Homo sapiens: one gene and its partner. The protein of the gene in region 2 interacts with the protein of the main gene of each other region in a biochemical or structural test. Each region holds a gene or a part of one and is shown on either strand. Other genes may lie near its edges.

Region 1 (3,821 bases), on a different chromosome or scaffold from region 2:
CTGAGGCTGGAGAATGGCATGAACCCAGGAGGCAGAGCTTGCAGTGAGCGGAGATCGCACCACTGCACTCCAGCCTGGGTGACAGAGCGAGACTCTGTCTCAAAAAAAAAAAAAAGGAAAGACTTTCACTGATTTTTAAATGTTTCAAAACCACCATTCTAGGTCAAACAGTGTTATTATTCACTATCTATTAAATATCCACATTACATGTTTGCTGTTTACTTTCCCCACATTAATGTACATTCTAATAAGGCAAGGACTTGGTTTGTTAGGGCTGCATTTCCAGTAGTCAGAACAGTATCTGATGAACAGTGGACATCCAAGTATTTGTTAAATTAACTAATCCAATGACAAAAACTACCTCTAAAATACAAATATAATGATAAGATACAGTGTACATCCATGCTGTCAGATTCTCGTACCCTAATTCTTTTCCAGCTATTTTTTCAGGAACCAATTTAAAGTAAACTCTTGGCCAGGCGCTGTGGCTCACACCTGTAATCCCAGCACTTTGGGAGGTGAGCAGATCACTTGAGGTCAGGAGACCAGCCTGGTCAACATGGGGAAATCCCGTCTCTACTCAAAATACAACAATTAGCTCGGCGTGGTGGCGAGCGCCTGTAATCCCGGCTACTCAGGAGGCTGTGGCAGGATAATCGCTTGAACCCGGGAGGTGGAGGTTGCAGTGAGCCGAGACTGTGCTACTGCACTCCAGCCTGGGCGACAGAGTGAGAATCCATCTTAACAAATAAATTGATTAAATTCTCTCGTATTAAAAAATCTTTTTTTGCTCATGAATGTCTAAAAGTCTCTGTACTCTTATTGTTTGATACAATATACTCATATTCAATTTAGAAGCTGAATTATCCTTAGACAAGAACAAATCTTATTATAATTTTAAGTATATAATTGCTTTATAACACAATAAATATAATGCAATAAGGTCTGAGTCACTAGTAAAAAAGTCAACAAGATCAAATTAAGAAATCAAGCTTAGAATAAAGATTGAGAGATTGACAGTACCTTCAAATACATTTTAATCTTAAAAAAGGGACTATGCTTTAAAATCATTTTAAAAATAGAACTTCTATCTTTGCCAAAAAAATTGGGTGAAATTATAAACGTTATTCCCCTGGAGAAAAGAACTGCTCATTATGCATCATTCAGAAAGCTTTTAGAAAAAATAACATATTTTTGAAAAATTCTAGACTAAGTGGAGCAAAGTGCCACATCAACTTCTCTTTTCCACTTTAGAATCATCCTGTGGTTCATTTCACTTTCACATTCCAATACTTTCAAGCTTCAGATTGCTAAGCCTCCTTCCCCTGGTAAAATGCCAGAAAAGGTATTCACATACCTTTGAAAAAAAATCAAGTACTTTGGAAATGACATTAAACAACTTTTGAAGGTTTAACCTTCCACCGTGTTTGGCTATTAAGGTTATAGACTTCCATAAGATAAGGACTTGTGAATATATATACTCAAAAAGGCTACAGCTGAATGTGGGTATTCAATAAATGCTTGAAACCAAGTATAAAATAACAAAATAGCAAACTGTGACTTGAACTGATTAGCTCTGTTTCTAAGCACTAGAGTGCTTTAGTAAAAGCAAAACATTGAGGCTGGGCACAGTGGCTCACACCTGTAATCTCAACACTTTGGGAGCCAAAGCCGAGGTTTGCTTGAGCCCAGGAGTTCAAGACCAGCCAGGGCAATATAGGGAGACCACCGTCTCTACAAATAATTACAAAAATTAGCCCAGTGTGGTGGCACGCAACTATGGTCCCACCTACTTGGGAGGCTGAGATGGGAGGATTGCCTGAGCCCAGGTGGTCAAGGTTACAGTGAGCTATGATTGCACCACTGCACTCCAGCCTGGGTAAGAGAGGGCGACCCCGGGCGTCTCAAAAAACAAACAAAAACTGACCTTTGTTTTGGAAAAGAGGTTACAATCAGACTTAATAGGAAAATATCTTTAGAAACTCACAATGATTTCATATTTAAATTAGTATTTACCAAAGTTTCCATTACATATAATAGGTCTGTGAAATTCTCACCCTCTTAGGATCCTTCACAAAGTAACTTCCACTTGAACCTTGAGAGATTCTTTCTGGAAAAATTCCAACTTCTATTGCTTGCTCTGCTCTCAGCATAATATCGGCAAATTCTGGGTCATCCAAGAATGCATTCATCTCTGAAGTACCAATAGTTACTGCATTAAGAAGAAATACCAGCTATGAGAATGCTCATGATATGGACCTGTAATATCGATTAGCTTGCCGGTATCAGGATATAAGGTACAGAAAAATGTAATCAAGATTTGTATAGACTGCTCTAATCCTCCTTCCCCCCACTGCCTAACAACCCCCACTTCTCTTAAATTTCCAAATAATAACATGGGGGCGGGGGCGGGCACAGTGGCTCACGCCTGTAATCCCAGCACTTTAGGAGGCTGAGGCGAGTGGATCACCTGAGGTCAGGAGAGTTCAAGACCAGCCTGGCCAACATGGCAAAACCCCGTGTCTACTAAAAATACAAAAAATTAGCCAGATGTGGTGGTGGGCACCTGTAATTCCAGCTACTCGGAAGGCTGAGGCAGGAGAATCACTTGAATCTGGGAGGTGGAGGTTGCAGTGAGCAGAGATTGCGCCACTGCACTCCAGCCTGGGCAATAAGAGCGAGACACCGTCCAAATAATAATAATAACAACAACAACAACAACAACATGGGAGGAAGTTAACTGTTCATTAAAAATAATACTAATACCTCTCATTTCTTTGAACTTCGGTCCTGCAATGATTCTATCATCCATCCTACTTCATCCTCTAGTTCCCCAATCATATCTCGGATTTTGTCAATACCAGTAACTGCAACCTCACCACACTTTCAATTTCAAGCACCTCCTGTCTTCCCAGTTCAGTCCCTCTGGCACTCCGAGTCCAAATATTCTTCTGCCCTACTAGAACCTACAAAGGACTGCTCCCCCACGTCACTGGAATTCTCTCCCTTCATGTCCTTGCTTCCCTCCTCCTTGGCCAGCTTAAATTATGCTGGGTCTTCACAAAATCAACTCTTTCTTTCTCCCTTCATCATGGTCACCTGCAAAACTCCCAGTCCTGGTTAAACCCAACTGTCTACCAACTCCATGCCTGCACCAGGGCAGCGGAATTAAAGAAATGCACATGAGCCAATTTCTCTCCTCAAATTCCCAACACCTCCTCTTCCATCCTCTCTCTCAGGAGAGGATCTAGCTTCCTATTTCATTAAGAAATAAGCAGCAATCACAAAATACTACGACCAGCCCCCAGCACTGCATTTATTACCAACTACTTAACTTTGGAATGGCCCAGGTTCCATTCACAGTCCTCTTCTCTCCGTTACCAACACTGGTGACTCCCAAATTTCTAATTCAAGCCTGGACTTCTGCCCTAAACTCGACAACTGTATTCAACATCTCCACTTGGATGCGTAATAGACATCTCAAACTTCACTACCCAAAACTTCATTCTTCACCTTTACGCCTCCCAAAGGCTTCATCCCTACGTTTCCCATATTGCAGTTGCTGGCACCTCCAAATCTTCCAGTTGCTTAGGCCAAAAACCTTATAATCATCCATGATCTCACACGCTTACCCTCTACATCCAATCAGCAGGTTGTATTGGCTCTACCTTAAATAAATACCCAGAATCCAACCACCTCTTGCCATCTCCATTCCTTCCACATGATTCAGGTTACCATCGGCTCTCACCTCGATTATTCTAAGAGCCTCCTAACTGGTCTCCCTCTCTCACCCAGTCCCTCTCTATACCTAACAGAGAAGC
Region 2 (4,572 bases):
AGCTGGGATTACAGGCATGCACCACCACGCCCAGCTAATTTTTTGTATTTTTAGTAGAGACGGGGTTTCACCGTGTTAGCCAGGATGGTCTCGATCTCCTGACCTCGTGATCTGCCCGCCTCAGCCTCCCAAAGTGCTGAGATTACAGGCGTGAGCCACCACGCCCGGCCAACTGTCTGATTCTTAACAGGAGCTAAAGGACCCCATGTAACAACCGGGGCCCTTTTCTCTCACCTCCTTACGAAGTCACTGGGGATGGAAAGGAGACTATGCTTGGTCTGCCTTCGATCACTGCCTTCATTCCCAGCTGCCAGCCAGGGCCTGGACAAAAACCCAGCTCTCAATATCCTCACAGGCTGAGCCCCACAATCCACCCTGGGACACCTGCTGGGTGTCATTCCAAGGACACCAAGAAAGGAAGCACATCAGCAAAGTCCCTGAGAACTCAGCTGTGAGACCCCGTGGCTCTTTCATCCCGTGATGCAATTCAGTCATTCTGAAGAATATTTTCAAGGACCGTAGCCAGCTAAGACAAAACAGAGTCATAAAATACATTCGCCTAAAAGCTTACAAACAATGTACACCTATATATACAAACCAAACCTTCTCTCTGGCAGTTTTATAATAAAAATATATGGCTTATAGATAGTCTCAAATGTCAAAGATGAAAAAAACCTGAACTTCACTTTATAGATGAGAAAACTGTAGCCCTGGGCCAAGGGTCAGCAGACTTCTCTAAAGGGCCAGATGGTAAATGGTTGACATTTTGGAGGTCCTATAGTCTCTGCTGCAACTATTTGCCTCTGTCACTGTAGCACAAAAGCAGCCACAGACAATACATAAACAGATGAGTGCGGCTCTGTTCTCATAAAACTTTATTTATGGATACTGGAATTTAAGTTTTACATTACTTACATCACATGCTACAAAATCTACTACTTCTTTTTTTTTCTTTCCCAACCATTTAAAAATGTAAAAGCCATTCTTAGCAGGCTACACCAAACAGGTGGTGGGCCAGATTTGGCCCTCAGGCCACAGTCTGCTGAGCCCTGTCATTTCGGCCACTCTTACACTCGAGTGTAGATAAGACAGGCCCCAATGCTTAATACTTCGTTCATTTGCTCTTTGCTTTACCCATCCACAGCAAAGACCTGGATACTCTTCACCAAAAAATGTACAACTAAGAAGCTTTATCAACATTTTCTAAATGTTAGGAGTAGTATTAAGATCTGTCAGACAAGTATGCCAGGTCACAGTTTAAAGGATATTGATATAATGCCATATTGTGCATTAAATAAAAACAAGAGAAAAATATAATAAACTTGAGAAACTCACTAAATTTGAAAAATAGGCTTTATTTTAACCAGTGGTATTGTCTGACATCCTATACGGCATAACTGATTACAGCCAAGTTCATGAATACAAATAAAATAGCAATTTCCCTCATTCTCTCTTTTGTTTTCTGTTCAGAGAAATCAGGAGATGGGAGCATTATGCTCAGAAACCGAAGAGCTCTTCCAAGAGCTCCAGCTTAGAGTCCAGGCTTCCAGAGCATGCAGCCTCCTAACACGTATGTGGTCACATGTGCAAAGACCTTTATTACAAAATATTCAGAGCAGTATTTCTGTAGGAAATCACACGAGCATTTACAACCAAACATGGCTGATAAAATTCATCTTGCTGTGGATGGTGAGGATTTGAACTGCAATAAAGGAGATGAGGCCTTTACTTTAAAGGTTCACTTTCCTTGAAAGGGGGAGAGTCCCGGGTGAGAGGGAATCGCCATCAGTCTGCCTCCTTCCTTCTTGCTCCAGTTGACTCAGGGGGTCCACCCTGTCCCTCTGGAGTACATGTATCACTGCACTGATTGAGAAATGGAAACACCTTGGCCCAAATACAAGATTCTGTCACACAGCCAACACTGGAAGTGACTTTATACTTTCTTATTACACAAAAGGCTTAAATATATGAGTCCTCATGTAGAACAAAATGCCTGAAATTCAGCAAGTTATGAAAACGACACTTCTCCACCCCTGAGGATATTTTATCTTTATAAAGTTGAAAATACAAAATATTAAAATAATTTGCCCTTTCTCCCCATCAAAAGGAATCACATTCTCAAAGGATTCCTACAATATACAAAATTCTGAAACAAAATTTATTTCTCCCCAAACCAAGAAGTCAATGTTAAGCTGCCAAGAAGACCCTTTTCCATAGGAGTGGAAAAGACACCTTGTTACTTTTTTATTTTAAAGTAATCATATTTAGAGAAAGACAGCAAAAGGAGTTTCTGGCCTTATGGGCTTTAATTTTTTACTTTGATTTTCAGCATTTCTTAGCATTAGTTATTGGGAGTGAAGAGAATAACTTGTTTCCGAAGTTTGGGATATTCCTGGGAAAAGCCCTGGTCTTTTCCCATGATAATTCCTCAAAAATAGTTGGTTGAAAACAGATGGCATGAATAAAAATGCTATACATCCACCTGTTCCTCTTTTCATGATTTTCACATCAAAAGCACCTGAAGTATCAATTGTGTTCAACACAGAATAGCACTAGGGGCTGAAGAGAGGTGATATCACTTGCCATAATATCAGCTGAGGTGACATGGGATCTAAACTACCCAAGAAGTCTTCACTGGCAAACCTGCCTGACACCAGGGCCTCCTGAAGAGAGCAGGACAAGCAGCTGTGCATGCTCAAATAGCAAGACGTGCAAAACACATCCTCACTCTGCTAGAAATAAAGAGTACACAGGAAGTACATGACATCAAGAACCTGCTTCTGACTACTGGGGCAGATATTCAAGAAACCTCTGCACCAAAGGTGAAGGGTAAGCAGAGAAATGGCAACACCTGGGGGTGAGGGAGAAAGAGAGACGCACATATACGCATGTGCTCACATGCACACATGACCGCCTATGAAGGCTGCCTGATTACTCCGGGCCCACAAGCAGCTGTCCAACAGCCCTCTCGACTTGCCCGGCTCAGAACTTCAGCAGCTGCAGTCTTTTAACTATCTACACTTTCTTCTCTCCTTTTAAGGCACAAACATATTTACAGTTTCAAATATACTGTCAAGATCTGAGAACCATACTAAGCAAGTTAATCACAGGCTAGTGCACAGAAGCCAGTTGGTCCTTTTTGGCTGTACGTATCACTGAGGGACGGTGTCAGGTCTGAAGCAACCAGAAGGTATGGGCCTTCTCTCCGTGCCACTGTGGGATGTTGTCAAGTCTACGCCCCACCGTCAAGGTGGGGTCACAGGAGAAGCCAAAGTGGCAAAAGCATGACCGGGATTGGGGACAATTCATATTTTTTTACTTTGCATTGAACATATTCCTAAAAGGACAGCAGCTCTTGTCTGCCTGAGCCAACTCTCAGAAAGAAGAGCAAGGTGGAGGCTGCCCTGGAGCATCCACAACCTCCTGTAAAGTCACTGTGATCATAGTTTGTTCATATTGTCTTACCCTCCCACAAAGACAGACACACACATGCACACACACTAACACGCACGCACACGCACGCACACCCCCTTCCACCATGGAGGAAATCTCTGCAACAAGAGGCACTTGAATAATATTTGGAGAGTTCCCGTGAAAAGGCCTTCCCCTCACAGTGAAGTGGGATCAACAGAACAGAAACCAGGTGCTCAGGACTCCATCTCTTCTTGGTCAAGGGGTGGTGGCACAAAGCTGATGACTTCATCATAGGTCAGGCCTAGAAATTGGGAAGGAAAAGTAAGATGTGAGAGTTTAGGCTATTCTCTTTGCTGGCAAGCACTCTGACTTCTAAGCTCAAGATCCTTCCTCTCTGTCCAGGTAGTGGTTTGATGGGCTACCTCACAGCTTGTATGTAATAGCCTACTGGAACACGTTATCACACAGAAGTTCAAGGGACATAGAAAAGAACCATTTTTTTTCTCATGTTTTTCATCGCTGAGTGCCTCTTCTTTTAAGCTCTCTACGGAGGTGCTCAAGAATGAAAGAGCACTCTCACAAGCTACAGCAACAGATGGTCTTGGCTCTTGGGATTTAACTAGAGTTCTGAACTTGTGTTTTGTGGAAAGAATATGGGACTGGACACAGGATACATGGGTTCCATTCCTGGCTATGTCCCTAACTAGTTCTAAGTTAACTGATAAGACATAAATTCTCTTTGCCCCAGTTCTACTAATTGTAAAACTGTAAAAGCTCAGAGAGATGTTGTAAATGCAATGACTCTGAAAACCTCAACTCTCCATGCAAAACTCCTATGTGAGGGGCTGTGCATAAAATCAGACCAGACATAAGTATCTCAAAGGTCCAGAGAGTATCACTGTCTACAACAGTTTCCACCAGAGAACATATTCATTCTGCATTAGAGACCTCATCTACAAGCTTTAGCAAGTTGGTTATGACCATTCAGTTTTTATTTTTCCCACCGCTTTTGGTTAGTGGTTCAAGATGTTAATCCTACCCTTAGGACTTACTTTTCCACTCATCTATAAGGAGGTCCCTGCTTTCAAAGGACTGATCATAAGGATCGGCCACTGGTTCATCATCAGGATCGTGGTACTGAGCAAAGTAGGCATGTGC

Evidence for each region. The genes of interacting proteins can lie anywhere in the genome.
Region 1: of the proteins of MAPK14 (region 2) and PI4K2B, one has a biochemical effect on the other in vitro, tested with the Homo sapiens proteins (one study listed by BioGRID).

Annotation. Positions count from the first base shown.
Region 1 is NC_000004.12:25,250,712-25,254,532, reverse strand, and holds part of PI4K2B (phosphatidylinositol 4-kinase type 2-beta), read right to left. Parts: intron 2,213-3,821; coding exon 2,058-2,212; intron 1-2,057. UniProt on the Homo sapiens protein: Together with PI4K2A and the type III PI4Ks (PIK4CA and PIK4CB) it contributes to the overall PI4-kinase activity of the cell. This contribution may be especially significant in plasma membrane, endosomal and Golgi compartments.
Region 2 is NC_000006.12:36,107,523-36,112,094, reverse strand, and holds the end of MAPK14 (mitogen-activated protein kinase 14), read right to left. Parts: coding exon 4,467-4,572; intron 3,716-4,466; coding exon 3,648-3,715; 3' UTR 859-3,647; downstream 1-858. UniProt on the Homo sapiens protein: Serine/threonine kinase which acts as an essential component of the MAP kinase signal transduction pathway.